Homo sapiens: one gene and its partners. The protein of the gene in region 4 interacts with the protein of the main gene of each other region in a biochemical or structural test. Each region holds a gene or a part of one and is shown on either strand. Other genes may lie near its edges.

Evidence for each region.
Region 1: of the proteins of GZMA (region 4) and LMNA, one has a biochemical effect on the other in vitro, tested with the Homo sapiens proteins (one study listed by BioGRID).
Region 2: of the proteins of GZMA (region 4) and HDC, one has a biochemical effect on the other in vitro, tested with the Homo sapiens proteins (one study listed by BioGRID).
Region 3: of the proteins of GZMA (region 4) and GOLGA2, one has a biochemical effect on the other in vitro, tested with the Homo sapiens proteins (one study listed by BioGRID).

The regions. Positions count from the first base shown.
Region 1 is NC_000001.11:156,131,711-156,138,710, forward strand, and holds part of LMNA (lamin), read left to right. Parts: intron 1-2,692; coding exon 2,693-2,818; intron 2,819-3,094; coding exon 3,095-3,265; intron 3,266-3,476; coding exon 3,477-3,602; intron 3,603-4,150; coding exon of another isoform or gene 4,151-4,190; coding exon 4,191-4,411; intron 4,412-4,503; coding exon 4,504-4,726; intron 4,727-5,210; coding exon 5,211-5,318; intron 5,319-5,402; coding exon 5,403-5,522; intron 5,523-5,943; coding exon 5,944-6,033; coding exon of another isoform or gene 6,034-6,054; exon of another isoform or gene 6,055-6,156; intron 6,157-6,777; coding exon 6,778-7,000.
Region 2 is NC_000015.10:50,241,710-50,248,758, forward strand, and holds the end of HDC (histidine decarboxylase), read right to left. Parts: intron 6,635-7,049; coding exon 6,536-6,634; intron 1,536-6,535; coding exon 1,434-1,535; intron 1,298-1,433; coding exon 551-1,297; 3' UTR 238-550; downstream 1-237. UniProt on the Homo sapiens protein: Catalyzes the biosynthesis of histamine from histidine.
Region 3 is NC_000009.12:128,259,008-128,266,007, forward strand, and holds part of GOLGA2 (golgin subfamily A member 2), read right to left. Parts: coding exon 6,963-7,000; intron 6,875-6,962; coding exon 6,781-6,874; intron 6,685-6,780; coding exon 6,578-6,684; intron 4,086-6,577; coding exon 4,027-4,085; intron 3,698-4,026; coding exon 3,556-3,697; intron 2,751-3,555; coding exon 2,661-2,750; intron 2,555-2,660; coding exon 2,447-2,554; intron 2,253-2,446; coding exon 2,165-2,252; intron 1,796-2,164; coding exon 1,458-1,795; intron 1,183-1,457; coding exon 1,069-1,182; intron 385-1,068; coding exon 160-384; intron 76-159; coding exon 1-75. UniProt on the Homo sapiens protein: Peripheral membrane component of the cis-Golgi stack that acts as a membrane skeleton that maintains the structure of the Golgi apparatus, and as a vesicle thether that facilitates vesicle fusion to the Golgi membrane.
Region 4 is NC_000005.10:55,098,526-55,105,645, forward strand, and holds the start of GZMA (granzyme A precursor), read left to right. Parts: upstream 1-4,120; 5' UTR 4,121-4,157; coding exon 4,158-4,227; intron 4,228-6,948; coding exon 6,949-7,093; intron 7,094-7,120. UniProt on the Homo sapiens protein: Abundant protease in the cytosolic granules of cytotoxic T-cells and NK-cells which activates caspase-independent pyroptosis when delivered into the target cell through the immunological synapse. It cleaves after Lys or Arg.

The DNA of each region.
Region 1 (7,000 bases), on a different chromosome or scaffold from region 4:
AGGCCCTTGTGATTTCTCTGGGGAAAAGGAGGACTGGAGTTGATCATTTATTGAGGCCATCAGAAGCGGATGGCTAATTACATATGGGACATGTGTTAATAATGCTTTGTGTATATAGAGTGGCCTTTACTTTCAAAACACTCTTCTCCAATTTATCATGTTAAAAGCTAGGAATTGGGCTGGGTGCAGTGGCTCACGCCTATAATCCCAGCACTTTGGGAGGCCAAGGCGGGTGGATCATTTGAGGTCAGGAGTTTGAGACCAGTCTGACCAACATGGTTAAACTCCGTCTCTACTAAAAATACAAAATTAGCCAGGCGTGGTGGCACACACCTGTAGTCCCAACAACTACTTGTGAGGCTGAGGCAGGAAAATCATTTGAACCCAGGATCAGAGGTTGTGGTGAACTGAGATTGCACCATTGCACTCCAGCCTGGGCAACAAGAGCAAAACTCTATCTCAAAAAAAATAAAAAATAGCCAGGCACGGTGGCTCATGCCTGTAATCCTAGCACTTTGGGAGGCAGAGGTGGGCAGATCACCTGAGGTTAGGAGTTCGAGACTAGCCTGGCCAACATGGTGAAACCCCATCTCTACTACAAATACAAAAATTAGCTAGGCATGGTGGCAGCCACCTGTAATCCCAGCTACTTGGGAGGCTGAGGCAGGAGAATCGCTTGAACCCGGGAGGTGGAGGTTGCAGTGAGCCAAGATCGGGTCACAGCACTCCAGCCTAGGCAACAGAGCGAGACTCCATCTCAAAAAAACATAAATAAATAAAAATAAAAATAAATAATAAATAAAAGCTAAGAATCAAAGAAGCAGTTTATTCCTAATTTCACAGTCTCATCTGTTCATAGTGGGGCCAGGATTAGAGTCAGTGGCCAAGCTTCCATCCTGGGTTCTTTCCCTTCCCAGGCCCTACCATCATAGTATACCAGGGAAAGACCTGGAGAAGCCAGCAGGTTGACCACCGAACCAAGGCTGGGCCACCTTCCTCCTGGGTCTGGTCTCCAGCCTCCCAGTTGTACCCTTCCCCCAGCCCTTCCTGGATGCACTGATCAGCCTGTGCTTCCTTGCCCTGTTTTTCTTTATAAATAGAGCCATGTTCTCCTCTCTCTCTCTCTCTTTTTTTTTTTTTTTTTTTTGAGATGGAGTCTTACTCTGTCACCCAGGCTGGAGTGCAATGGCACGATCTCAGCTCACTGCAACCTCTGTCTCCCAGGTTCAAGCAATTCTCCTGCCTCAGCCTCCCGAGTAGCTGGGATTACAGGTGCCCACCACCATGCCCAGCTACTTTTTGGATTTTTAGTAGAGACAGGGTTTCACCATGTTGGTCAGGCTGGTCTTGAACTCCTGACCTTAGGTGTTCTGCCCGCCTCAGCCTCCCAAAGTGCTGGGATTACAGGCGTGAGCCACCACGCCTGGCAAGACGTGTTCTCTCTATGTTGTTGAGGCTGGTCTTGAACTCCTGGCTGCAAGAGATCTTCCTGCCTCAGCCTCCCAATGTGCTGGGATTATAGGCATGAGCCACCACACTTAGCCCAGCCTGTGCTTTCTTAAATGAAAATCTAAGCATACGGCTGGGTGTGGTGGCTCACGCCTGTAATCCCAGCATTTTGGGAGGCCAAGGTGGGCAGATCACGAGGTCAGGAGATCGAGACTATCCTGGCCAACATGGTGAAACCCTGTCTCTACTAAAGATACAAAAATTAGCTGGGTGTGGTGGCCCATGTCTGTAGTCCCAGCTACTCGGGAGACTGAGGCAGGAGAATGGCATGAACCTGGGAGGCAGAGCTTGCAGTGAGCTGAGATCGCGCCACTGCTCTCCAGCCTAGGTGACAGAGCGAGACTCCATCTCAAAAAAAAAATAAAAATAAAAAAAAGAAAATCTAAGCGTGGTGCTCCCCTGCTCAAACATCCTCAGGTTCTTTTCATGGCAGATAAGGGCATCTCTTCATGAGCCAGCCCCTGCCTACTGACCCAGCCACCTCTCCCATCCCTTCCCACCCCGTACTTCAGGCTTCAGCAGTACTGATCTTTCCAAAGACCCCAGAACACACATGCCTTCATACCTCTGTGCCTGTACATGCTTGTTTCTGCCCTTGAAATCATGACAGTAGCTCTCTGTAGGCCCCGCTAGCCTGTCCCTTGGGTCTTAGCCTCTTGGAGGCCTTCCCAGAGCCCCCCAAAAGTACCCCAGGCATACTTTGGTTCCTTCTCTCATGTCCCCTCAGTACTTTGCACATACCTCCTTTATAGCAGTTGCTATGTTGTGCCAGAGAAGGGAGTCCTGTGGCTGGGGGGCATATATCTTTTCTTTTTGAGACAGAGTCTAGCTGTGTCACCCAGGCTGGAGTGCAGTAGTGCGATCTCGGCTCACTGCAACCTCCACCTCCTGGATTCAAGCGATTCTTGTGCCTCAGCCTCCTGAGTAGCTGGGACTACAGGCGTGTGCCACCATCATGCCTGGCTACTTTTTTGTATTAGATATATATTTTCTCTCTTAGCACAGTACCTACCAAGAGTGAGTGAGTAGATGTCCTGACCCCTGCAGGCATCCAAGGCCCTCCTTCCCTGGACCTGTTTCCACATGTGTGAAGGGGTGCACAGGCAGCAGCCCACCTCTCAGCTTCCTTCCAGTTCTTGTGTTCTGTGACCCCTTTTCCTCATCTCTGCCTGCTTCCTCACAGCTTGAGGCAGCCCTAGGTGAGGCCAAGAAGCAACTTCAGGATGAGATGCTGCGGCGGGTGGATGCTGAGAACAGGCTGCAGACCATGAAGGAGGAACTGGACTTCCAGAAGAACATCTACAGTGAGGTGGGGACTGTGCTTTGCAAGCCAGAGGGCTGGGGCTGGGTGATGACAGACTTGGGCTGGGCTAGGGGGGACCAGCTGTGTGCAGAGCTCGCCTTCCTGAGTCCCTTGCCCTAGTGGACAGGGAGTTGGGGGTGGCCAGCACTCAGCTCCCAGGTTAAAGTGGGGCTGGTAGTGGCTCATGGAGTAGGGCTGGGCAGGGAGCCCCGCCCCTGGGTCTTGGCCTCCCAGGAACTAATTCTGATTTTGGTTTCTGTGTCCTTCCTCCAACCCTTCCAGGAGCTGCGTGAGACCAAGCGCCGTCATGAGACCCGACTGGTGGAGATTGACAATGGGAAGCAGCGTGAGTTTGAGAGCCGGCTGGCGGATGCGCTGCAGGAACTGCGGGCCCAGCATGAGGACCAGGTGGAGCAGTATAAGAAGGAGCTGGAGAAGACTTATTCTGCCAAGGTGCTTGCTCTCGATTGGTTCCCTCACTGCCTCTGCCCTTGGCAGCCCTACCCTTACCCACGCTGGGCTATGCCTTCTGGGGATCAGGCAGATGGTGGCAGGGAGCTCAGGGTGGCCCAGGACCTGGGGCTGTAGCAGTGATGCCCAACTCAGGCCTGTGCCTCCACCCCTCCCAGTCACCACAGTCCTAACCCTTTGTCCTCCCCTCCAGCTGGACAATGCCAGGCAGTCTGCTGAGAGGAACAGCAACCTGGTGGGGGCTGCCCACGAGGAGCTGCAGCAGTCGCGCATCCGCATCGACAGCCTCTCTGCCCAGCTCAGCCAGCTCCAGAAGCAGGTGATACCCCACCTCACCCCTCTCTCCAGGGGCCTAGAGTCTGGGCCGGATGCAGGCTGGAAGCCCAGGGTTGGGGGTGGGGGTGGGGGTGGGAGGTTCCTGAGGAGGAGAGGGATGAAAAGTGTCCCCACAACCACAGAGAAGGGTCGCAGGATGTGGAGTCAGATGGCCTGTGTGCTGTTTCTGTACACTCTTACCTCACCTTCACTTCTCAGGGCTTTGGTTTTCCCATTCGAAAATGGAGGCTGTTCTTAATCTCCCTAACTCAGAGTTGCCACAGGACTCTGCAATGTGAGGTGTTAAAAGCATCAGTATTTTTCTAGTTGGCTGTGCTATTTGTGACAGGAGAAAAAGTCTAGCCTCAGAACGAGAGGTTTCAGTTAGACAAGGGGAAGGACTTCCCAGTTGCCAGCCAAGACTATGTTTAGAGCTTGTGATGTTCAGAGCTGGCTCTGATGAGGGCTCTGGGGAAGCTCTGATTGCAGATCCTGGAGAGAGTAGCCAGGTGTCTCCTACACCGACCCACGTCCCTCCTTCCCCATACTTAGGGCCCTTGGGAGCTCACCAAACCCTCCCACCCCCCTTCAGCTGGCAGCCAAGGAGGCGAAGCTTCGAGACCTGGAGGACTCACTGGCCCGTGAGCGGGACACCAGCCGGCGGCTGCTGGCGGAAAAGGAGCGGGAGATGGCCGAGATGCGGGCAAGGATGCAGCAGCAGCTGGACGAGTACCAGGAGCTTCTGGACATCAAGCTGGCCCTGGACATGGAGATCCACGCCTACCGCAAGCTCTTGGAGGGCGAGGAGGAGAGGTGGGCTGGGGAGACGTCGGGGAGGTGCTGGCAGTGTCCTCTGGCCGGCAACTGGCCTTGACTAGACCCCCACTTGGTCTCCCTCTCCCCAGGCTACGCCTGTCCCCCAGCCCTACCTCGCAGCGCAGCCGTGGCCGTGCTTCCTCTCACTCATCCCAGACACAGGGTGGGGGCAGCGTCACCAAAAAGCGCAAACTGGAGTCCACTGAGAGCCGCAGCAGCTTCTCACAGCACGCACGCACTAGCGGGCGCGTGGCCGTGGAGGAGGTGGATGAGGAGGGCAAGTTTGTCCGGCTGCGCAACAAGTCCAATGAGGTAGGCTCCTGCTCAGGGTCTAAGGGGATACAGCTGCATCAGGGAGAGAGTGGCAAGACAGAAGGATGGCATGTGGAGAGAGGAACATCCTTGCCCTCAGAGGGTGGACCAGGGTGAGCCTGTATATCTCCTCCACACTCTGGTTCCAGGCCTGGCTCCTGGACTCTTTGGCTGTGAGACCTTGAGCAGGTTATTTAACCTCTCAGAGCATCAGTTTCCTCATCTGTAAAATGGGGATGAATACTGATCCCTAAGTCTTTGAGTTGTCAGGAAGATGAAAGATAAGGTATCCGTGTGCCTGGTGCTGCGTATGTGTCCACAGATCATGGCTATTATCCCCGGGGGAAGGGCAGTGACAGGGGTGTGTGTAGATGGAAGGAGAGGCCTCAATTGCAGGCAGGCAGAGGGCTGGGCCTTTGAGCAAGATACACCCAAGAGCCTGGGTGAGCCTCCCCGACCTTCCTCTTCCCTATCTTCCCGGCAGGACCAGTCCATGGGCAATTGGCAGATCAAGCGCCAGAATGGAGATGATCCCTTGCTGACTTACCGGTTCCCACCAAAGTTCACCCTGAAGGCTGGGCAGGTGGTGACGGTGAGTGGCAGGGCGCTTGGGACTCTGGGGAGGCCTTGGGTGGCGATGGGAGCGCTGGGGTAAGTGTCCTTTTCTCCTCTCCAGATCTGGGCTGCAGGAGCTGGGGCCACCCACAGCCCCCCTACCGACCTGGTGTGGAAGGCACAGAACACCTGGGGCTGCGGGAACAGCCTGCGTACGGCTCTCATCAACTCCACTGGGGAAGTAAGTAGGCCTGGGCCTGGCTGCTTGCTGGACGAGGCTCCCCCTGATGGCCAACATCGGAGCCAGCTGCCCCCAACCCAAGTTTGCCAATTCAGGGCCCCTTTCTAGAGCTCTCTGTTGCAGGCTCCAGACTTCTCCACCCAGTAGGCAAACCAAAAGATGCTTCCTCAACAGCACAAGGGGTGGAAGTTAGACAGTGAGGATTGTTAAAGGCAGAGCCATACTCCTACCCGGAGAGCTTGACAGTGTCCCTCTGGGGTGGAAATGAGTTCCTTAGCTCCATCACCACAGAGGACAGAGTAAGCAGCAGGCCGGACAAAGGGCAGGCCACAAGAAAAGTTGCAGGTGGTCACTGGGGTAGACATGCTGTACAACCCTTCCCTGGCCCTGACCCTTGGACCTGGTTCCATGTCCCCACCAGGAAGTGGCCATGCGCAAGCTGGTGCGCTCAGTGACTGTGGTTGAGGACGACGAGGATGAGGATGGAGATGACCTGCTCCATCACCACCACGTGAGTGGTAGCCGCCGCTGAGGCCGAGCCTGCACTGGGGCCACCCAGCCAGGCCTGGGGGCAGCCTCTCCCCAGCCTCCCCGTGCCAAAAATCTTTTCATTAAAGAATGTTTTGGAACTTTACTCGCTGGCCTGGCCTTTCTTCTCTCTCCTCCCTATACCTTGAACAGGGAACCCAGGTGTCTGGGTGCCCTACTCTGGTAAGGAAGGGAGTGGGAACTTTCTGATGCCATGGAATATTCCTGTGGGAGCAGTGGACAAGGGTCTGGATTTGTCTTCTGGGAAAGGGAGGGGAGGACAGACGTGGGGCATGCCCGCCCTGCCTCTCTCCCCCATTCTTGTTGCATGCATATCCTCTCATTTCCCTCATTTTTCCTGCAAGAATGTTCTCTCTCATTCCTGACCGCCCCTCCACTCCAATTAATAGTGCATGCCTGCTGCCCTACAAGCTTGCTCCCGTTCTCTCTTCTTTTCCTCTTAAGCTCAGAGTAGCTAGAACAGAGTCAGAGTCACTGCTCTGGTTCTCTGTCCCCAAGTCTTCCTGAGCCTTCTCCCCTTTTATGTCTTCCCTCTCCTCCTCCGGGCCCCTAGCCTCCCAAACCCCCATTGCCCGCTGGCTCCTTGGGCACAGAACCACACCTTCCTGCCTGGCGGCTGGGAGCCTGCAGGAGCCTGGAGCCTGGTTGGGCCTGAGTGGTCAGTCCCAGACTCGCCGTCCCGCCTGAGCCTTGTCTCCCTTCCCAGGGCTCCCACTGCAGCAGCTCGGGGGACCCCGCTGAGTACAACCTGCGCTCGCGCACCGTGCTGTGCGGGACCTGCGGGCAGCCTGCCGACAAGGCATCTGCCAGCGGCTCAGGAGCCCAGGTGGGCGGACCCATCTCCTCTGGCTCTTCTGCCTCCAGTGTCACGGTCACTCGCAGCTACCGCAGTGTGGGGGGCAGTGGGGGTGGCAGCTTCGGGGACAATC
Region 2 (7,049 bases), on a different chromosome or scaffold from region 4:
GTTCAGGTCCAACCTTGAGCAGTACTGCATGGTGGAAACAGCCTGGGCTTCACTGGAAGCCAGGAGACCTGGGTTTGCCTATTTAAAGCTGTGTGACCTAAACGTTGGTTTCCTCATTTATGAACCATGAGCCACAGTGCCTGACTCATAATTGATGCTTCAAAAAAAGTACATATGTTTAAGCTCCCAGACTGGTTAATCAATGTTTCAGCAGCCAATTAAGTGACACAGGGTATGTTTTGTTTCAGGGACAAGCATAATTTATTTCTGTGTTATATATCATGTCACAAGCTGAACCACAGAAGCTGCCTGTCTACCCTCGGCCCTTTCTCACTGACCAGACTGCTGAACCCATCTGGATCATGCTGGCTTAAACTCTTCGTTTGTATCCTATTGTGGGTCATGAACCCCTATGAGAATTTGATTAAAATTATGAACTCGCCCCAAGAAAAATGCATGTACACATAAGCACACAAAGTTGGCATACAATTGTGAGGGGTTCACAGAGTCCCTGAAGTATATCCTCAGACTCTGGCTGAAGGCCCTGTGTCTAAACCATGGCCTGCAGAGGGCAACAGGGCAGCTGGAGTCCACATTGAGAGCTGCATTCAGGAAAGCTGGGGACGCTGTAGAATTTGATGAGTTTTTTGAAGGCACTTTTCTTCAGCATCATCATGTCTTCTGGAAACCTGGAAAAGATTCTGACCCTGGAGGAGCCCCCATTCTTCACAGAGGCCTCTGTGGGCAGTGGCTTCTGAGCACTCACTGGCACACTGTTGCAACTGAGGGAGCGCACCGTCTTCTTCTTAGTCTGCACAGACAAGTAACTGAACAGGAAGGAGGACAGCTTGTGCTTGGTGGCATCTGGGGCCTCTTCTGAAAAGCAGTCATCAACTGGGTCCAGCAGGGTTTCAAGATGGAGGCCATTTTCCCTTTTCATGGGACCGGCTCCCACACGCTGAGGCTGCTTGATGATCTTCCTGGCCTGGACTGGATCATCTCCTGCCCCACTGACAGACTGAAGGGACGTTCCACAGGCCCAGGCTCTGGCACCCCTGATTTGGGAGATGAGGTTCCCAACCCGAGGGCTGGGTTGGGAAGTACAGTGCTGACTCAGGATGAGAGTGGCAGCATCTCGAATGAGATTCCAGTCTCTCAGGATGTCATCCCTAGTGGTAAACTGGGATGTCACAGTGAAACGGATGATTAACTTGTCCTGGATAGTGGCCGGGATGAGGAAGAGACGGCCAGCTTTAGCTATTTCCTTTAACACATTTTCTGTGAGACAATTAGGACCCTGTTTGAAAAATAAAGGAAGTGAAGTCTCCATCGCACCCCCTGTCAGCATCCCCAGAGCCCAGCATTTGTGTTTCCGAGAGGCTCTGGAGCACCACAAGACATCATTCACAGAGGGGCTTGGAAGATGGTATTACCTTTAGACGAAAAACCACCAGGCCAAGGTGCCTCTTGGCAGGAATTTCAAAGGAAGGGTCGTTTCTGACCAGAGATTCAAAATATTTAGCCATTTCAGTACCCTGGAATTGCAAGTATAAAGAGAACTGAGATTAATCATCAGACAAGAGACTATGCATAAACTTTCAGACTGCTAAATGGTTTTAAACCAGGGCCATCTTCCCGTCACAGCCGTTGTAAGCGGCTTCTGCCTCATTGTCATCTCCATTTGATTTTGCTCATATTCCAAGCTGGAAAATTTCCAATGGCGCCCTGTTTCCTGTCACATGGGATCCACCTCGAGAACTCATCTCAGGGCCCTCTTTCAACTCAGCCCCAGAACCCAGAAGGCATGTGCTTTGCAGTCCAGGCAACCCGGCCTCAACTCCTGATTTCACAGCTCCTTGACTGGCCAAGTGGGCAAGTGAGGGCCAAAACCCAGTCCATGCTCTGCGTTCCCAGCCAGGTGCCTCATGCGAGCTGCGTGTGCCTAAAGGAAGAGATGCCTGTTTGTAGTGCACATCAAGTTGCCATATGGGCTAGTGGCGGCCCTGCCCCATCCTAAGCCTACATGCTTCACTTGCCTCTCAAACCTCTTCTCACCCTGTACCCCAAATGCCCTTTTCATCCCCTGTTTCTGACATTCCATAGAGAACATATTTTCACATCTTGTCTCCACCCATCATGGAAAGGTTTTGGACCTGGTTAATGGATACAGAGTTTCTGCTCGGGATGATGAAAAAATTCTGGAAATAATGGTGATGGTCACACCACATTGTGAGTATTCTTAATGCCACTGAATTGTACACTTAAAAATGAGTAAAATGGTACATTCTATGGTATGAATATTTTGTTACAATTTTAAAATGTTAAAGGCTTTGTATTATATTAATCTTCCACTGAAGTTCATACCATCTTTTTAAATGTCCTGGGGTTTTTTGCTTTTTGTTTTTAACCCAGGATTACTAACTAAACAAGGACAGGACTTGCCTTCTCTTTTCTTTTTAAAAATTTCTCCAAGCATCCAGAAGATCTCAATAAAATATTTGCTAAGTAATTCTATCAGTTAGTTCTCATACTTACTGCTCTATTTCAAGAGAGGGCAAGGGAGTTAGCTGAACCTCTTTTTTTTTTTTTTTTTTTTTTTTTTGAGAGATAGGGTCTTGCTTTGTCACACAGGCTAGAGTACAGAGGCATGTTGCACAATCAAAGCTCACTGCAGCCTTGAACTCCTGAGCTCAAGTAATCCTCCCACCTTCACCTCCTGAGTAGCTAGGACTACAGACATGCACCACCATGCCCAGCTACATTTTTTAATTTTTTTGTAAAGACAGTGGTCTCACTAGGTTGTTCACCCTGGTATCAAACTCCTGGGCTTAAGCGATCCTCCTTCCTAGGCCTCCCAAAGTACTGGGATTACTGGCATGAGCCACCATGTCTGGCCCTGAGCCTGTCTTTTGACCATAATGAAATGAGTTTCTCCAAATCTTTCTCAGAGCCCCTTTCTCCCCTGCGTGGTCAGTTTCAAACAGCACAGGAGTTTTGACCTGCTCCATTTCTAACCTGGGCCCCTTCACCCCTCCTTAGGCAACCTGGTGATCCCTTGCTCCTGGGAGGTCACCATATTGATGCCGAACTTAGTGCGGACACTCAATTGGCATAGCACACCATAGCCCAGAACTCCCACCTGGGCTATGGTGGGAGCAATTGAGCTTCCCACCTCAGCCTCCCAAGTAGCTGGGACTACAGACACGTGCCCCTGTGCCCAGCTCAATCTTTCCATTTTTTAGAAGGAACCAAGGGAAAGTGACTTTCCCAAGGTACAAGTGACAGTAGGTAGATCTCCTCCCACTGTGCTTTTATCCCTCCTACAACACATGCTGTTTGCAATAACAGAAGCAGAGGTCAGGGGAGAGGAGAATACAGAGCACAGGCAGCACTGCCACCTCCAAAGCCCCACTTTACAGGTCATGAAAGCAGAGCTGCTGCCAGTGCCCTGCACCGCTCTAGGTCAAGGGCAGGCACAGTGCAGCCATGGCCAAATATAGCCCCCACCTGTGTTTGTAAAGTTTTTTGGAACACAGCATTCCCATTTGTTTACATATTGTCTACGGTAGCTCTTGTAGTACAGAGGTAATTACAATAGAGTATGGCCCACAAAGCCAAAAGTATTTAGTATCTGGCTTTTTACAGGAAATGTTTACCAATCCCTATTGTAGGTGATAGGAGATGAGGATGATGATGATGATGATGGTGATGATGATGACAATTTATTATAATTAGATGAAGAAGGAGATGATGAAGAAGGGGAAGAAGAGAAGAGGAAGAGGTACTCATTGAGTACTTAACTGAGTAGTAGGTAGACCCTGTGCTAAGGGCTGCATATATATTATCTCATTTAATTTGAGAGAGGTAGTATCCTTTTCTCATTTTTATAAATTAGGAAGGCATGGCCAGGGGTGGTGGCTCATGCCTGTAATCCTCGCACTTTGGGAGGCCAAGGTAGGCAGATTGCTTGAGCCCAGGAGCGTGAGAACAACCTGGGCAACATGACAAAACCCCATCTCTACAAAAAATACAAAAAGTAGCCAGGCATGATGGTATGCGCCTGTAGTCCCAGCTACTCAGGAGGCTGAGGTGGGAGGATCACCTGAGCCTGGGGAGGTCAAGGCTGCAGTGAGCTCTGATGGCACTACCGCACTTCAGCCTGAGCAACAGAGACCTCATCTCAAAAATAAATAACAATAAATAAATAAGGCAGACAAATATAGAAAGGTTAAGTAATTTGTCTAAGGTCATCAAACAGTAAAGGGTAGAACTAAAAATCCATTCTTTAAAGCACTTCTCTGTAACACAGAAATATGAAATTTAATTTTATATAACTTTCCAAGAGCTCAGTGTAGTAGAAAGCAGCCCAGAACTATGAAGAAAGGATTTGGAATTGGGAGGCTTCAGGGAAAGTCCCGGGCCTTCTTCCCTCAAGCAGGGCAATTACTCCCTCTGAGCCTTGCCAGGTTAGAGTGACCACCCCAGGCACTGTGCTAAGGATCTAATGAAGAACTAGAATTTATTTTTGTATTGAAGGCATTACGCAAGTGTCAATAATTATCATCACCGTCAAGTTGAAGAGATAAAATCAAATCATATCAAACAACTTTATTTTAATTCCATTTCTTCTATTGTGGGACATTGGAAGAACTTTGAGCACAGTTTTGTAAAGGTGTTTGAGTAGGTGATCACAGGAATGCTAATGAAGCAGAAACCAGAACAGATGGAATAGGCAGAAAAGCTTCTAGTGGAAGCAGAATTTAATCCATTCACAACATTTGGAGAGGAGAGGGTAGTTCAGGTGAAGGACACGGGTGAAGGTGCAGAGATGGACTGAGCATGAGGTCTGGATGGGTCGATGAAATGCCCAAGCTAAGGTAGGAGCTAATCGTCAAGTCCTTGAAAGCCAGGCCCAGGAGTGTGGGCCTCATATGGTAGGCAATGGGGTTGCTAATAGGAGGAATTCAGGGGTTTGATTTGCAAACAGAAGTGCTAAGGGAGGTTAGTCAGGATCTGCACATTGAATATCCAGTCCCAAACTGTAAGCAAAAAAATGTTCCTAATTACTTGTAACCTCCACCAACCATTCCCCGCCCACAACCCTCCAGTCTTGAGTCTGCATTTCTAGAAACAGCACAAAGTGCCTAAAGTTCCTCAATATTGTTGGTGGCAGCTGCTCATTGGTAAACAACCAGTGGTGATTACAAAGGTAAAATTACCAACATTAAAACCAGTCATAGGAAACTGGAGAACATTATGTTAAGCAAAATAAGCCAGGCACAGAAGGACAAATTTCACATGTTCTCACTCAAACGTGGGAGTTAAAAAGTAAGCAAACTGAGCTCGTGGAGACGCACAGTAGAATGATGGTTGGCAGAGGCTGGGAAGGGTAGCAGGGAATGGGGGATAAAGAGGTGATAGTTAACGGGCGCAAAAATACAATTAAATAGATCTAATGTTAGGCGGCACAATAAGGCAACTATAGTTAACTATAATTTGCTGTACATTTCAAACTAACTTAAAGAATGGAACTAGAATGTTTCTAACACAAAGAAATGATAAATGGTTGAGTGGTGGATACCCAGTTACCCTAATTTGATCATTGCACATTGTATGCCTGTATCAAAACCTCACACATACCCCATAAATATATACGTAATTATTATGTAAGCATAATAATTATTTTTTTTAAATGTTAAAAAAAATCATAGTTACCGCTTCCACCACTTCATTTTGGTTTGTGTTTGTTTAACCAAGAAGGAATTCCCTAGAGGAAAGGTGGAAGGACAAAGACACACATAGGCAGAAAGGACAGTGTCTTCAGCTTCCCCCACTACTTTTATCAATGGCTTTGTCTTGCATGTGGACTCTTGTAGAAGTGGGAGAACAATGCCAGTGGCCAGAGTTCTTAGTTAAGTCCCGCTTCTTCCATGAAGAACATGGGAGAGAGGCTGCACCTGTCTCATTTACCTCTGTGTCCCTTTCTTAGCACAATACCTTGTAATTGTTGAATTGAATAGAAATAAATTAAGCAAAATAGGCCTTCAATAAATGCCTGTTGATGCAGGGAGGTTTGTTCCAGACTTGGTAGGTCTACCTGTCCAAGCCAGGGGAGCTTTATTTCAGGCATAATCATAATAGTGCTAAAATATTCAGCCAGCTGTGACCATTGAGGTAATTCCAAAGCAGATAGGATCCTACCCTGGCCACACACACTTCCCCTTGATTTACTTTCTCTTTCTCTTTCCTGCAAACCAGACTCTGGGGCCAACCCTCCCCAGTGCTCAGTGACAGCAAGGGGAACGGTGAGACACTCAGCAGAGGACAGGCATCAGGCAGCCCTCAGGGCATGTTGTGCTCAGCGCTCCTCTGGTTAACAAAGAGAATCAAGTCCCAGGAGCTGAGGAACAGGCCCAGACACCTGAACCACACACCGCAAGTCTCCTAGGCAGATCTGCAAAGTAGAAACCAGCCTTCCTCGCCATGAGAAAACAGAGGAACACAGGCTCAGCCCCCACAGCAGCATGCTACATACATGTCTGACATGTGCTTGAAGATTCTTCACCCCGAAGGACCGAATCACGAACCAGAGTTTAACAGAGCGAAACCGTCGGCTCAGGGGGATCTGCCAGTGCTAGAAACAAAGGAACACAGTGCCCAAGGTTAGAGACAAGGGTGCCCCACTCCCTCGGGCATTTCTGGGCATTATCTGTTGCCTGCCCAGCCCTCCAGGGATGGACGATGTCACCATGACTCTGGGAGCTGTTGCTAAGGAGTAAGCCAAGCTCCCCAAGGGTTGCCCCATCGTGTGACCAAATCACTGATGAAGGTGGCCAATAGTCACTTGTCTGAGAGCCAGACAAGTGGAAGTCAAGTCCATTACCCTGAACCAATGAGAAGGGCACTTTGCTTTCAAGTGCTGCTTTAAACATTTCATCCCGGCCCAGAAACTCAACATAAGGGAAATACATTTTTACTCTAAATGAATCTTTATTCCTTGAATAGCAGAAAATAAAGTTCTATTTTTATTCCTCCCAAAATGTAAAGTA
Region 3 (7,000 bases), on a different chromosome or scaffold from region 4:
TTCCCCAGGGTGAGCCATGAGGCTCAACTGGGCCCGTAGCTGCTGATTCTGCTGGGTGGCAGCTTCCAGGCGCTCCTAAGGGGCCAGAAAAGAGAGTGAGAAGGCATGGAGGTTGCCAGGTTGTCCCCCTCGGGGCCCTGCCCTCACCAACTCCCTCACCTGGGTTTCCTGCAACTCTTGGCGGGCCATCTCGGCCACCGCTTTGCCCTGAGCTTCCTGCTGCTGCAGCTGGTCCACGAGCTGGGTCTGCAGCAGTAGCTGATTATGCAGCACCTCCTTCTCAGAGGTCAGCTGCTGATAGGCGGCCACATACTGCTGCAGGTGTCCCAGGTACTGGTCTCGCTGCTGCTGCAGACTTTGAGCCTCTTGGCTCTTCAGCTCCACCTGTAGGAAGACCCTGGGCGTGAGGGCAGGTGGTGGCCTGCTTCCAGATTCAGGGCCCATAAATAGGGTAGCGAGGGCTCTGTCACCTGCCCAGACCTCTGGCCCCTTGCTCCAGGCCTAAGTGACTGCCTCCCTTGTCTAGAGCCTCGTGCCTCCTTCCCCAGCCTCAAATTTCACATCCTTCTTCCCACCATTTAAACCGTAGGCCACAGACTGGTGGAAACGCAGAGGGAGCCAACCACCATCTGCTAAGTGTGCTACATGCCTAATGCTTTCCACGTATTATCTCATTGAATCCTCAGCACCTCTGCAAGGAAGATGCTAACTTCCTTTTTAAGTTAAAGAAACTGGGGCTTAGAGATGCAAAGTAGTTGAATGATGACCAGTGGAGCAAAGGCCAGAATCCAGTTTGAATCTAAGGAGCCTCTTATGCCGCTGTCTCTTCCCCTGTGATTGGGAGAAATCCATGCCTCTAGCTGGGACGATGATGTCCAGACCTGAGAGGAGCCCAAAGCTATCCACCTCTAAAAGTCAGAGGGCAGGGAGCAAGAAACAGTCACAGGACTGCCCTGGAGGGTGCTGGGGTCACCTGTGCCCCAGGCTGGAGCTGCCTCTGGCCTCACACCACCCCTCCCCAGAGGCTGGTGCCCGCCTCCCAGCCCTTCTTGGATGGGGCGGGGTTACCGTTTCCTTCAGCTCGCTCAGCTTCTCCTGCAGCTCGCCCAGCTTCTTTCCCAGCTCCCTCTTGACGTGCTGCTCCGACTGCAGTGCGCTGGTGATCTCCATGTTCTCATTAGTCTGGACAGAGAGAAGCAATCAGCGGCCACCCACTGCAGCTGGAGACCCCAGAACTTGCTGCCTTGGTGTCTGCCTCCCATGGCACCGGGAAGGGTGGAGGCAGGTTAGAAAAATCATCCCCTCTCCCCCACAGCCATCGGAGCAGGGCTCTGGCTCACAGATGCCTCCAGAAGTACCATTTCAAGTGAGGGCTACACTGCCCCACTTTACAGGTGGGAAAACAAAGGTCTGGAGGGCTAGGGAGGAGGGCGGGCTCTCCAGGTGGGGCAGCGCACCAGCTTTACAAATCCGCTCTGCAGCTCAGCCAGCTGCTCCTTGAGCTCCCGGTTCTGGGAGAGTGCGCGGCTGATGGTAGTGCGGTCGTTCTGCATGGTCTCCAGGATTTGCCTGCGCGCCTCCGCCTGCTCCCCCCAGAGCTCGGCCGCCCGCTCCAGCTCCAGCAGCCTCTCCTCCTGCTCCCGGTTCAGGCGACTCAAGCCCTCATTGTCTTGCACCTGGGCTTGAAGCTGTCCTGCCAGACCCTCCAGCTCCTTCCGCAGGTGCTCAGCCTCCGCTTGTAGCTGCTGCTCCACCTCGGAGGGCCCTGCTGGGGGCTCTGGGGGCGGGGGTTCAGCTGAGAAAGGACGCAGACAATAAAAGCCTCTGGATTCTCAAAAAAACCCTCCTCTTGGTCCATACCTCCTCTCAAGCTCCCCAAACTTGGCCTCCCTGCTGATGATTCCTCGCACCCGGATGTTAGCCAATCTTCCAAACCACTTTCCGATAGCGACAACTGTGGGTGGCTGACAACGGGCACTCCTTCGTCTTTGCTGATGGGGCACTGAGGCTCATGGAGATGACGAGACTTGCCATCTCCTGGCACAGACCTCTTTCCCTCTGCCTCAAAGCCATTCCATCCACCCAACTCCCTGGGGCATTCTAAACCACCCCCACAACCCTCTGACACCATTCCTGCTCCCAGGTCACCCCAGCCCCAGCTTACCCATCTGGTTCCTCAGTTCAGCCAAGCTCGTCTCCAGCTCCTGTACCCGACTCATGCTACATTCCTTCTCCTCTCTCAATGTGTGCACCTGCCCAAAGCACAGCAAGAAAGGGCCCTGGAGAGGGGCTGGTGGCTGGACAGGCTACCATCTCCCTCTGCCCCCACCGCCACAAAGCCCAGACCCATGACCACCTCTGGCTGTGCTCCTCCCATTTCGCAGATGCCCAGAAAGATCAAGTGACCTATCTAAGGTTGAGGGGGAGCTGAAGGGTCAGGTCTCACCTGCTCTGACATCTGCTGCATCCTCTGCCGCCACATGGCGCTCTCTCCTTTGAGATTCTCCGCATATTTATCTCTCTCCATTTGTAGTTGTCTAACCGACTCCATTACCTGCAAGAATGGCCACAGAAATGAGGAAGGACTGTCACTGGTTGTCACCTACTCCTGGCCACCTGGGGTCATCTTCCTTCTACATCCCTCCCCTGCAAAGCCTCACCTGCCCCAGGTGTGCTTCCAGCTGTGCCCGCTCCTCCATGGCCTGCTGTAACTGCTGGTTAGCATCAGGGGCTTCACACCGGCTTGAAAACTGGATGGTGAAGAGCGAGAAGTTTAGATCTGGGGAGCCCAGGCCGTTCCAAATAGTGCCCCTTAAAAGGGCTAGGGCTAGGCTCAATGTGCAACTCAGTCAATACAACTCTGCTGTCAAGTTTCTTTGCTTTAGAAATAAAAAATAATTTTAAAAAGATCTCAGGCCAGGCATGGTGGCTGATGCCTGTAATCTCAACACTTTGGGAGGCTGAGGTGGGTGGATTGCTTGAGCTCAGGAGTTCAAGACCAACCTCGGCAACATGGCAAAGCCCCGTATCTACAAATACAAAAATTAGCCAGGCATGGTAGTGTGCGCCTGTAGTCCCAACTACTTGAGAAGCTGAGGCAGGAGGATGGCTTGAGCCTGGGAAGTAGAGGTTGCAGTAAGTATCACTCCAGCCTGGGTGATAGAGCGAGACCCCGTCTAAAAAAAAAAAAAAAAAGATCTCTACTCTCTATTATTAGTGAAAGTGTTGGCTTGAACCTCAGAAGGAAATAAACAGACTCATGAGCTAGCCATATAAATGTAATCTCTAAAATAATGGTTTTCACCCATGATGCTTTAAAACAAAACAAAACAAAACAAAACAAAAATTGTCTTAAGCCCTAACCCTAAGATTCTGATTCCCCAGGTCCCCAATTTGTAGATTTTTAGCACTCTCTAGAGGATTTTATGCCAGGACCGGAACAAGGACCCAAATTTTCCAGCTCTTGGCTGGAGTCTCCCCATGCCCTGCATGATCCCTAGACCATGGCCCCAGCTGGATGGCGCTCCCACCACCCATGGGGCTGCAGCCTCTTGCCTGTTGAAGCAGGAGTTCCGTCATCTCTAACTTCTTTTGCAATTCTTCCAAGTTAAGCTGCATGCCAGCCTTCTCAGTCACTAGGACCCGAAGCTTCTCTTCCAATTCTGATTTCTCTTGCTTCAGGTCCTCATTGCTTTGGCTATGGCCAGAGGCAGTAGAGAAAGGAATGAACGAAGAACAGAAAGGACTGCTTTGGTGATCCACCCTCTACCCTTGCCCCACAACCACAGAACTGTGGCACTGGAAGGAACCCCAGGAATCAAAAGTCACATGTACAGGCCAGAGAAAAGATACGAGTTACCCAAGGCTACACCATGAGTCAGTGGCACAGCTGGCACTAGAGCTTTGCTGGGCACACATGCACACCTCTATGACTACCTCATCATGCTTACCTGTACCCCCCACCTCCCAGCACACCACCCATGCTGAGGGCCCCCAGACCTCCCATCCCACCATCCCCCATCCTACGTGTTCTTGTATAACTCCAGCCTGAGGGCGTCTCTCTCTTTGGTTAACTCCTTGTTGTACTGTAAATACAGAAAGGTTAAGTCAGGATATAGCAGGCAGAGGAGCAGCTGGCCAACCAGTAACAACAGCTACAGTAAGTACTCCACAGTAACACTTCCTCACTCTCAATCACACTTGACATGTTTTCAAGGCATTTCCAAGCCCATGGTCTCATTTTGTTGTTGCTGTTGTTGTTTTTGAGACAGAGTCTCCCTCTGTCACCCAGGCTGAAGTGCAGTGGTGAGATCTCAGCTCACAACCTCTGCCTCCCTGGTCCAAGTGACTCTCCTGCCTCAGCCTCCTGAGTAGCTGGGACTATAGGCGTGCACCACCATGTCCGGCTAATTTGTTTTGTTTTGTTTTTTCTGAGATGGAGTCTCTGTTGCCCAGGCTGGAGTGCAGTGGCGCAATTTCGGCTCACTGCAAGCTCCGCCTCCCGGGTTCATGCCATTCTCCTGCTTCAGCCTCCTAAGTAGCTGGGACTACAGGCCCCCGCCACCACACCCGGCTAATTTTTTTGTATTTTTAGTAGAGACGAGGTTTCACTGTGTTAGCAAGGATGGTCTCGATCTCCTGACCTTGTGATCCGCCCGTCTCAGCCTCCCAAAGTGCTGGGATTACAGGCGTGAGCCACCATGCCTGGCCTAATTTTTTTATTTTTAATAGAGAGGGGGTTTCAACATGTTGGCCAGGCTGGTCTTGACTCCTGACCTCAAGTGATCCGCCCGCCTCAACTTCCCAAAGTGTTGGGATTACGGCACCCGGCTGGTCTCATTTGTTTTTAAAAAAACTTGGTAAGGGTGGCCGGGTGCGGTGGCTCACGCCTGTAATCCTGGCACTTTGGGAGGCCGAGGGGGACGGATTACGAGATCAGGGGATCGAGACCATCCTGGCTAACACGGTGAAACCCCATCTCTACTAAAAAAAAAAAAAATACAAAAAATTAGCCAGGCGTGGTGGCAGGTGCCTGTAGTCCCAGCTACTCGGGAGGCTGAGGCAGGAGAATGGCATGAACCCGGGAGACAGAGCTTGCAGTGAGCCGAGATGGTGCCACTGCACTCCAGCCTGGGCAACAGAGTGAGACTCCGTCTCAAAAAAAAAGGACTTGGTAAGGGTGGAAGGAACAGGGAGAGAGAGCGAATTTATGTATGTACGTATGTATGTATATATGTATTTATTTGAGATGGAGTCTCCATCTGTCACCCAGGCTGGAGTGCAGTGGCGCCATCTTGGCTCACTGCAACCTCTGCCTCCCGGGTTCATGTGATTCTCCTGCCTCAGGCTCCTGAGTACCTAGGATTACAGGCATGCGCCATCATGCCTGGCTAATTTTTGTTATTATTTATTTATTTATTTATTTATTTATTTATTTTCAGACAGAGTCTCCCTCTGTCACCCAGGCTGGAGGGCAGTGGCACGATCTCAGCTCACCGCAACTTCCGCCCCCGGGTTCAAGCAATTCTCCTGCCTCAGCCTCCCAAGTAGCTGCAATTACAGGGGCACGCCACCACACCTGGCTAATTTTTTGCATTTTTAGTAGACACAGGGTTTTGCTATGTTGGTCAGGCTGGTCTCGAACTCCTGACCTCAGTTGACCCACCTGCCTCGGCCTCCCAAAGTGCTGGGATTACAGGCATGAGCCACCACACCTGGCCAAGATCGAATTTACAGCTGGCTAACAGAGGCCCAGAGAGATCAGATAATATTGCTATTGTTATTATCATTATTACTACCACTGTTTGAACCTTTATTGAATGCTTCACCAGGCACCATGCTAACAATCCCATTTAATCCTCATAACCACCACATGAGACAGTTACTATTATTACCTCTATTTTGTAGATGGACAACACGGAATATTAGAGGTTAAGTGCTTGCCTAAGATCACTTAGACAGAGCTCGGATTTGAACACCCAGGTATATCTGACTCTCTAAGCTCATTTGTTCCCCGAGGGTGGGGGCACAAATAGGAAGGGGGAAATTATCTTTTGTTCAGTTTTTGAAAGGATGATATATTCAGATAGTCCAAAACTCCGAAAGGGCAGAAGGGAAATATCTTCCAGCCGTGCTGTTCCTCTCTCCTGAGTTTGTTATGAATCCATGCAGACACGTTTTATGTATATTGTCATAGTACATAGGTACACATACACACACACGTTCCCTCTCTCTACACAAATGGTAACATACTAAAGATACTCTTCTGTACCTTCACAGTACAAGTACCATATTCCCCCACCTAGGACTTGACCAAGGCCACAGCCAGGTAACGGCACAGCGGGCACTTGGCCTCCGAGCTCTGCGTCCAGTGTTCACTCCCCACAGTGCCCCCAAACTCACCCACAGCAGCTGACTCAGCCCCAGGATGCCTCTAGCAACCACACACAAAAGCAGTGATAAATGGCCCATGCTGCCTTCTAGGCAGGACAGTCAACCCTGCAGAAGGGACCTTTAGGCTCACTCCTCCATCTGGGAAGCCAGTATGCCAGGGGACGGGGCAGGCAGTTGGACTCACCCTGTCTGCCTTCTTCTGCTGCGTGGAGACAGCAGAGAGAGCCCGCTCCAACTCTCCCACACGCCGCCGGGAATACTGCAGGCGGCTGGCCAGATCTTCAGACTCTCCTGGAATGAGAGAGGTTGAGATGGGGCCCAAAGGACTCCCCCTAAAGGCCTGTCAAAGTGCCAGGTTGAAGGATGATGGGGTGCCCAGATTCCCACCTTCTTTCTGCCTGGCAGCATGCTGAGTGTGAGCCAGGGCTGTCTGTAACTCAGCTTTCTCTGATACGAGGATCCCTATGGTCTGAATGTGAACCTTTGGGAGGAAACCCAAGCAAGTGCTGAAAAAGAAGGAAAGAAACATTCTCCAGAGGACAGGACGGAACTTCACACCCTCCACTCACCTGTAACTGCTCCCTTAGGGCTCCCTGCTTTTGGTGGC
Region 4 (7,120 bases):
AAACATGGAAAGGAACAACTGGTACCAGCCACTGCAAAACCATGCCAAATTGTAAAGACCATCAATGCTAGGAAGAAACTGCATCAACTAACGAGCAAAATAACCAGCTAGCATCATAATGACAGGACCAAATTCACACATAACAATATTAATCTTAAGTGTAAATGGGCTAAATGCCCCAATTAAAAGACACAGACTGGCAAATGGGATAAAGAGTCAAGACCAATCAGTGTGCTGTATTCAGGAGACCAATCTCCATGCAAAGACACACATAGGCTCAAAATAAAGGGATGGAGGAAGATCTACCAAGCAAATGGAAAGCAAAAAAAGCAAGGGTTGCAATCCTAGTCTCTGATAAAACAGACTTTAAACCAACAAAGACCAAAAAAGACAAGGCCATTACATAATGGTAAAGGGATCAATGCAACAAGGAGAGCTAACAATCCTAAATATATATGCACACAATTCAGGAGGACCCAGATTCATAAAGCAAGTCCTTGAAGACCTACAAAGAGATTTAGACTCCCACACAATAATAATGGAAGACTTTAACACCCCACTATCAATATTAGACAGATCAACGAGACAGAAGGTTAACAAGGATATCCAGGACTTGAACTCAGTTCTGCACCAAGCAGATCTAATAGACATCTACAAAACTCTCCATCACAAATCAATAGAATATACATTCTTCTCAGCAACACATCGCACTTAATCTAAAATTGACCACATAATTTGAAGTAAAGCACTCCTCAGCAAATATAAAAGAACAGAAATCACAACAAACTGTCTCTCAGACCACAGTGCAACCAAATTAGAACTCAGGATTAAGAAACTCACTGAAAACCACACAACTACATGGAAACTGAACAACCTGCTCCTGAATGACTACTGGGTAAATAACAAAATGAAGTCAGAAATAAAGATGTTCTCTGAAACCAATGAGAACAAAGACACAACATACCAGAATCTCTGGGACACATTTAAAGGAGTGTGTAGAGAGAAATGTATAGCACTAAATGCCCACAAGAGAAAGCAGAAAAGATCTAAAATCAACACCCTAACATCACAATGCTAAAAACTAGAGAAGCAAGAGCAAACAAATTCAAAAGCTAGCAGAAGGCAAGAAATAATTAAGATCAGAGCAGAACTGAAGGAGCTAGAGACACAAAAAACCCTTCAAAACATCAATGAATCCAGGAGGTGGTTTTTTGAAAAGATCAACAAAAATGACAGACTACTAGCAAGACTAATAAAGAAAAAAAGAGAAGAATCAAATAAATGCAATAAAAAATGAAAAAGGGGATATCACCACCGATCCCACAGAAATACAAACTACCATCAGAGAATACTATAAACACCTCTATGCAAATAAACTAGAAAATCTAGAAGAAATGGATAAACTCCTGGACACATCCACCCTCCCAAGACTAAACCAGGAAGAAGTTGAATCTCTGAATAGATCAATAACAGGTTCTGAAATTGAGGTAATAATTAATAGCCTACCGACCAAAAAAAGTCCAGAACCAGATGGATTCACAGCCAAATTCTACCATATGTATAAAGAGGAGCTGGTATCATTCCCTCTGAAACTATTCCAATCACTAGAAAAAGAGGGAATCCTCCCTAGCTCATTTTATGAGGCCAGCATCATCCTGATACCAAAGCCTGGCAGAGACACAACAAAAAAAGAGAATTTTAGACCAATATCCCTGATGAACATCGATGCGAAAATCCTCAATACAATACTGGCAAACCAAATCGAGCAGTACATCAAAAAGCTTATTCGCCATGATCAAGTTGGCTTCATCCCTGGGATGCAAGGCTGGTTCAACATATGCAAATCAATAAACATAATCCATCACATAAACAGAACCAACAACAAAAACCACATGATTATCTCAATACATGCAGAAAGGGCCTTCAACAAAATTCAACAACCTTCATGCCAAAAACTCTCAATAAACTAGGTATTGATGGGACGTATCTCAAAATAATAAGAGCTATTTATGACAAACCCACAGCCAATATCATACTGAATGGACAGAAACTGGAAGCATTCCCTTTGAAAACTGGCACAAGACAAGGATGCCCTCTTTCACCACTCTTATTCAACATAGTGTTGGAAGTTCTGGCTACAGCAATCAGGCAAGAAACAGAAATAAAGTGTATTCAACTAGGAAAACAGGGAGTCAAATTGTCTCTGTTTGCAGATGACATGATTGTATATCTAGAAAACCCCATCATCTCAGCCCAAAATCTCCTTAAGCTGATGAGCAACTTCAGCAAAGTCTCAGGATACAAAATCAATGTGCAAAAATCACAAGCATTCCTATACACCAATAACAGACAAACAGAGAGCCAAATCATGAGTGAACTCCCATTCACAATTGCTTCAAAGAGAATAAAATACCTAGGAATCCAACTTACAAGGGATGTGAAGGACCTCTTCAATGAGAGCTACAAACCACTGCTCAACGAAATAAAAGAAGACACAAACAAATGGAAAAACATTCCATGCTCATGGATAGGAAGAATCAATATCATGACAATGGCCATACTGCCCAAAGTTATTTATGGATTCAATGCCATCCCCATCAAGCTTCCAATGACTTTCTTCACAGAATTGGAAAAAACTACTTTAAAGTTCATATGGAACCAAACAAGAGCCCACATTGCCAAGACAATCCTAAGCCAAAAGAACAAAGCTGGAAGCATCATGCTACCTGACTTCAAACTATACTACAAGGCTACAGTAACCAAAACAGCATGGTACTGGTAATGGCTGCACAACTATGCAAATATACTAAAATCCATTGACTCATACACTCTAAATGGGTGACCTTTATGGTGTGTGAATTATGTCTCATAAAGTTGTTAGAAGTCAACATAAATGGAAGAGCAACCATTCACATAAAAATAAACAAAATTGTCAATGTTTTAAGAATTTTTCAGTAGGTGTAGTTAATTACAATTTGACTTTTTTAAGTCTGCACTAAAATTACTCACCAAAACCAATAGCAGGGTCCTCACTGCTGTTACTGAAAATGATTAACCTTTGATACACTTGTAATATCTGAGAAAAAGAAATGCAGGGGTCTCAGCAGGGCTCCCTTCTAAGGTCACTTGATTTCTAAAGAAGTAACCACTAGGTTTGAAGTCATCAGGATGTTAACTATGGGGATGGTTGGTTCAGTACCCAACATCCTGACAGCACATCTGACCATGTATATTGTATCGGAGACCACATCCTCAGCTCAGAAAAAGAGCTGAACTCATTTCAAATAGAAAGCACACTGCATACTGTTCCTCCAGGGACTGAGGTTGACTCTTCTTAGAGTGAGACATTCCCCAACATTGGAACAAAAATGACTCCCACTTCTTTTCTCACCTAAACCTGTTCAGAAGAAAGTAAGGAAGAAAGGCAGGAAGCAGGGGTCGGGGGGGGGCGGGGAGGGAGGGAAACTCGGAGATACTTTCAGTATCTAAAGTTGTGAAACTAGACAATCAGGAACGCACAATCAGAGGGCTGAAAAGGGCCAAGAGCCCCTACCCTCCTCCAGCCCATGTTCCCACACCTGCCACAGACCAGGCAGGAGCACAATAAACACTCACCACAAAGTGGGGAAGGAAAATCCAGGCAGGAGCCTCTATGTAAATAAATCTCCCTCCTGTCCTCAGCTTGCACTTGGCCTGCTAATTCTTATATAACCCAAGGAGACAGCTAGAAAGAATTTTGATTGGTGACCAATTTTGAGGACTTTTATTAAAATTCTAATTTAAGTCTTCGAGAGTTTCCAGTCATGGATACTACAGATAATATTGCAGATGATGAAAGCGTCTTCAAAATCATAGCTGAGACACTTTACAGTCTTCCCTGGTGTACTCTGATGGCAACAAGGTCCCTTGCCCCTCTCCTACCCTGTAGAATTCCAGCGCCCCCCTCAGCAGTCCTAGCAAAGGAAAGCCTGCCTGCTGGCAGTGAGCCATCATCCACCATTCTCACTTATTTGGATTTGGTTTCCTAATGCTAAACTTTGAAACTTGAAAAAAAAAATGAAAGGAAACCACATCCTTTTTACTCTCAGTATATAGATAGAGGCAGTTAAGAACTGAAAACAGATTTTCAGGTTGATTGATGTGGGACAGCAGCCACAATGAGGAACTCCTATAGATTTCTGGCATCCTCTCTCTCAGTTGTCGTTTCTCTCCTGCTAATTCCTGAAGGTAAGACTGATTCTTCTCATTTCCATTATGACCATGAAGCAAAATGGAGCAGACTTTCAATGAACTTTTGGCAATATTACCTTCCTATACTGAAAGAAGATGTTTTCCCCCAAGCCTTATAATGTTTAGCCAGGCACAATGGCACATGCCTGTAGTCCCAGCTACTAGGAACGCTGAGGTGGAAGGATCACTTGAGCGCAGGAGTTTGAGTCCAGGCTGGGCGACATAGTGAGACCCTGTCTCTATTTTTTTTTTTTAAATAGCATTCTTTCTTGGATTTTAAATATGTCTGTATTTTAGAAAAAAAAATCTTTTCTTCTCATAATTATTTTGCAAAAGATAGCAGAACCACCAATGCTTATTGCTGCCAATTTGTAACTTGAAAATTGCCAAAAAGGACAATGTAAAAATGAGTTAACAAAACTCTCTTGTTCGTAAAACAAATAGTACCTTCCAGGAAAGGAATAGTGGCAACTTAGTCAGCTCAGCCTTTCCTGCTGCAGAAAATGCATAGATAAAGACAATTAAGACAAATCTGACCTAGACACCAAAAGTGAATCAGGAATTATTAGAATTTTTATACTTATTTCTCTGGTCTAGAGACTCTTTGGCAATAAATTAAGGCGTGAGGCCAGTTCCCTCATTAACCCTTTGGGTGTGCTATAGTATTTTTTATTAAGCTAATTTTTTGTCTACCAAATGGTAACCAATATTTCTGCTTTTGTGTGAGTTGAGCATGCATGGGTTAAAATGCTGTATAATTCATGGTATTACCACTGAAAGGGTGACAGCTCTTGGGGAGCTCTAGATTTCCCTTGAAGAACCTGCTAGGAAGTGAGGACTACTCTCAAGCTGTGGCAATATGGAGCCAGCCACGGTTTTTCCCAGGATTCATCAGCTTTTGGAGGCAGGGACTTATGTAATAACCTGCCTTGCCAGGAATTCCCAAAGAACTCTGGTTTATCATATTTAGGTGCATATCTGGTTTATGCACCTAAATATGAGAAGACTTTGGGAGGCTGAGGTGGGTGTTTCACAAGGTCAAGAGATGGAGACCATCTTGGCCAACATGGTGAAACCTTGTCTCCACTAAAAAAACAAAAATTAGCTGGGTATGGTGGCACGTGCCTGTAATCCCAGCTACGCAGGAGGCTGAGGCAGGAGAATCGCTTGAACCAGAGAGTTGGAGGCTGCAGTGAGCTAAGATCGTGCCACTGCACTCCAGCCTGGTGACAGAGCGAGACTCTGTCTCAAAAAAAAAACAAAAAAGAGAGAGAGAGAGAAGAAATATAAAAATAACAAGGCTGCAGGACATTTGGGACAAAGGTTGGCTATGTTATAAGCAGGGCATAGTATGACTATATTCAGGCATGTTAAATCCTCCATAACAGAAAAACACAGGGCAGATAAATCCAGCCATATCTTTTCTTCAAAGGAAAACAACAAAAGCAACCTGCTGTGCTCCTCTTTGTTTCCTGTGTTCAGAGAGGGCAGTGTGGGCCCATATAAGGAACAGACAGCAAAGCAAGGCACAGTTGAAATCTATCTGTACATGAATCACCCTAGGAAAATTGGGATTGGGTGAAGGTCTTTTGTTTCTATAAGCTCTTTACCCTTTTGTTTCTAGAGCCTAGAATTTCTTCCTCCCAGTTTCCTTTTTAAAAGCAGAGACCTCTGCTTTTTCAAATCACACTAGCCACATTTCATGTGGTCACTCTCCTCCTTGCTCTTACCCTCATCAAATCTTACGAAAGGCTTCTATAGCTGTCATTAATACTTGCCTGTGAATTTGGCAATGACTTAGTCCTAATTATGGAACAAGAGGCACTGTGCCCTATTCAAGAAACCATGAGTCTCAGCAAAACTATTTTGGGAGAATCCAAGAACATCTGGTGCAGGAGGTGGAGCACTCGGAGTGTATCACTAAGACATAAGGTTCTCTCTATCTGCATGTATGGTTTGCCTTGTGTTTAGTTCTCACTGTTCCTTAACAATGGGTCTCTACTTCAAGACTATCATCAAGGAAATGTCACTTAGGCAGAATTCTTGGCATATGGTATCTTCTCTCTTCTCTTCCCTATCTCATTGGAAAAGACCTTAGATTAAACCCCATGGTTTGGTCTAGAGATTGAAGGGGAGGTGCAATCGATGTTATTTTCTTAACTTATGAGTGAGAACAGTGCAGTTTAATAACCAAAAGTCTCATAATGACCAAAGGACTGAGGGGTAGGGTCACAGCTAAACGATGCTAATATCGGTTCATAAGCTATATTTTTGCAATGGCTTGGGGTTAAAAGGGAAGTTATGAGGCTTCTAAAAGTCTTATCTATTTCCCCCAAATTAATAGTTAGCCAAAAAGGGTGGGAGCACTTGAGGTTGTCACTACCACTGGCATTTCCTGCAGCAACTGTTGATGGTAAAGACCAAGGCAGAGCTTTCTGCCCTGGGGCCTGAGGTTGCTGGTTTGTGACATCCAGCCTAATGATCCTGGAACAGTCAATGGCCTCGCTTCTGTGGGTGGAAAAACAGGACCCTAGAGTCCAACAGGAATAGGATTTGCATCAGATGTCTGCGGGTCTACATAGAGTAAAAGCAGGGGAAATGCTCTCATCCAGACTTCCTCTCTGAGTGCAAAAAGCATGGCTGGTCTTAGAAACATGACTTTGTGTAGAGCTCTTTGGGGGTGAGCACCAATCTGATTTGTCTTTTTCCATTGAACAGATGTCTGTGAAAAAATTATTGGAGGAAATGAAGTAACTCCTCATTCAAGACCCTACATGGTCCTACTTAGTCTTGACAGAAAAACCATCTGTGCTGGGGCTTTGATTGCAAAAGACTGGGTGTTGACTGCAGCTCACTGTAACTTGTAAGTGCCTGGGTTTTTAAAAAAAAG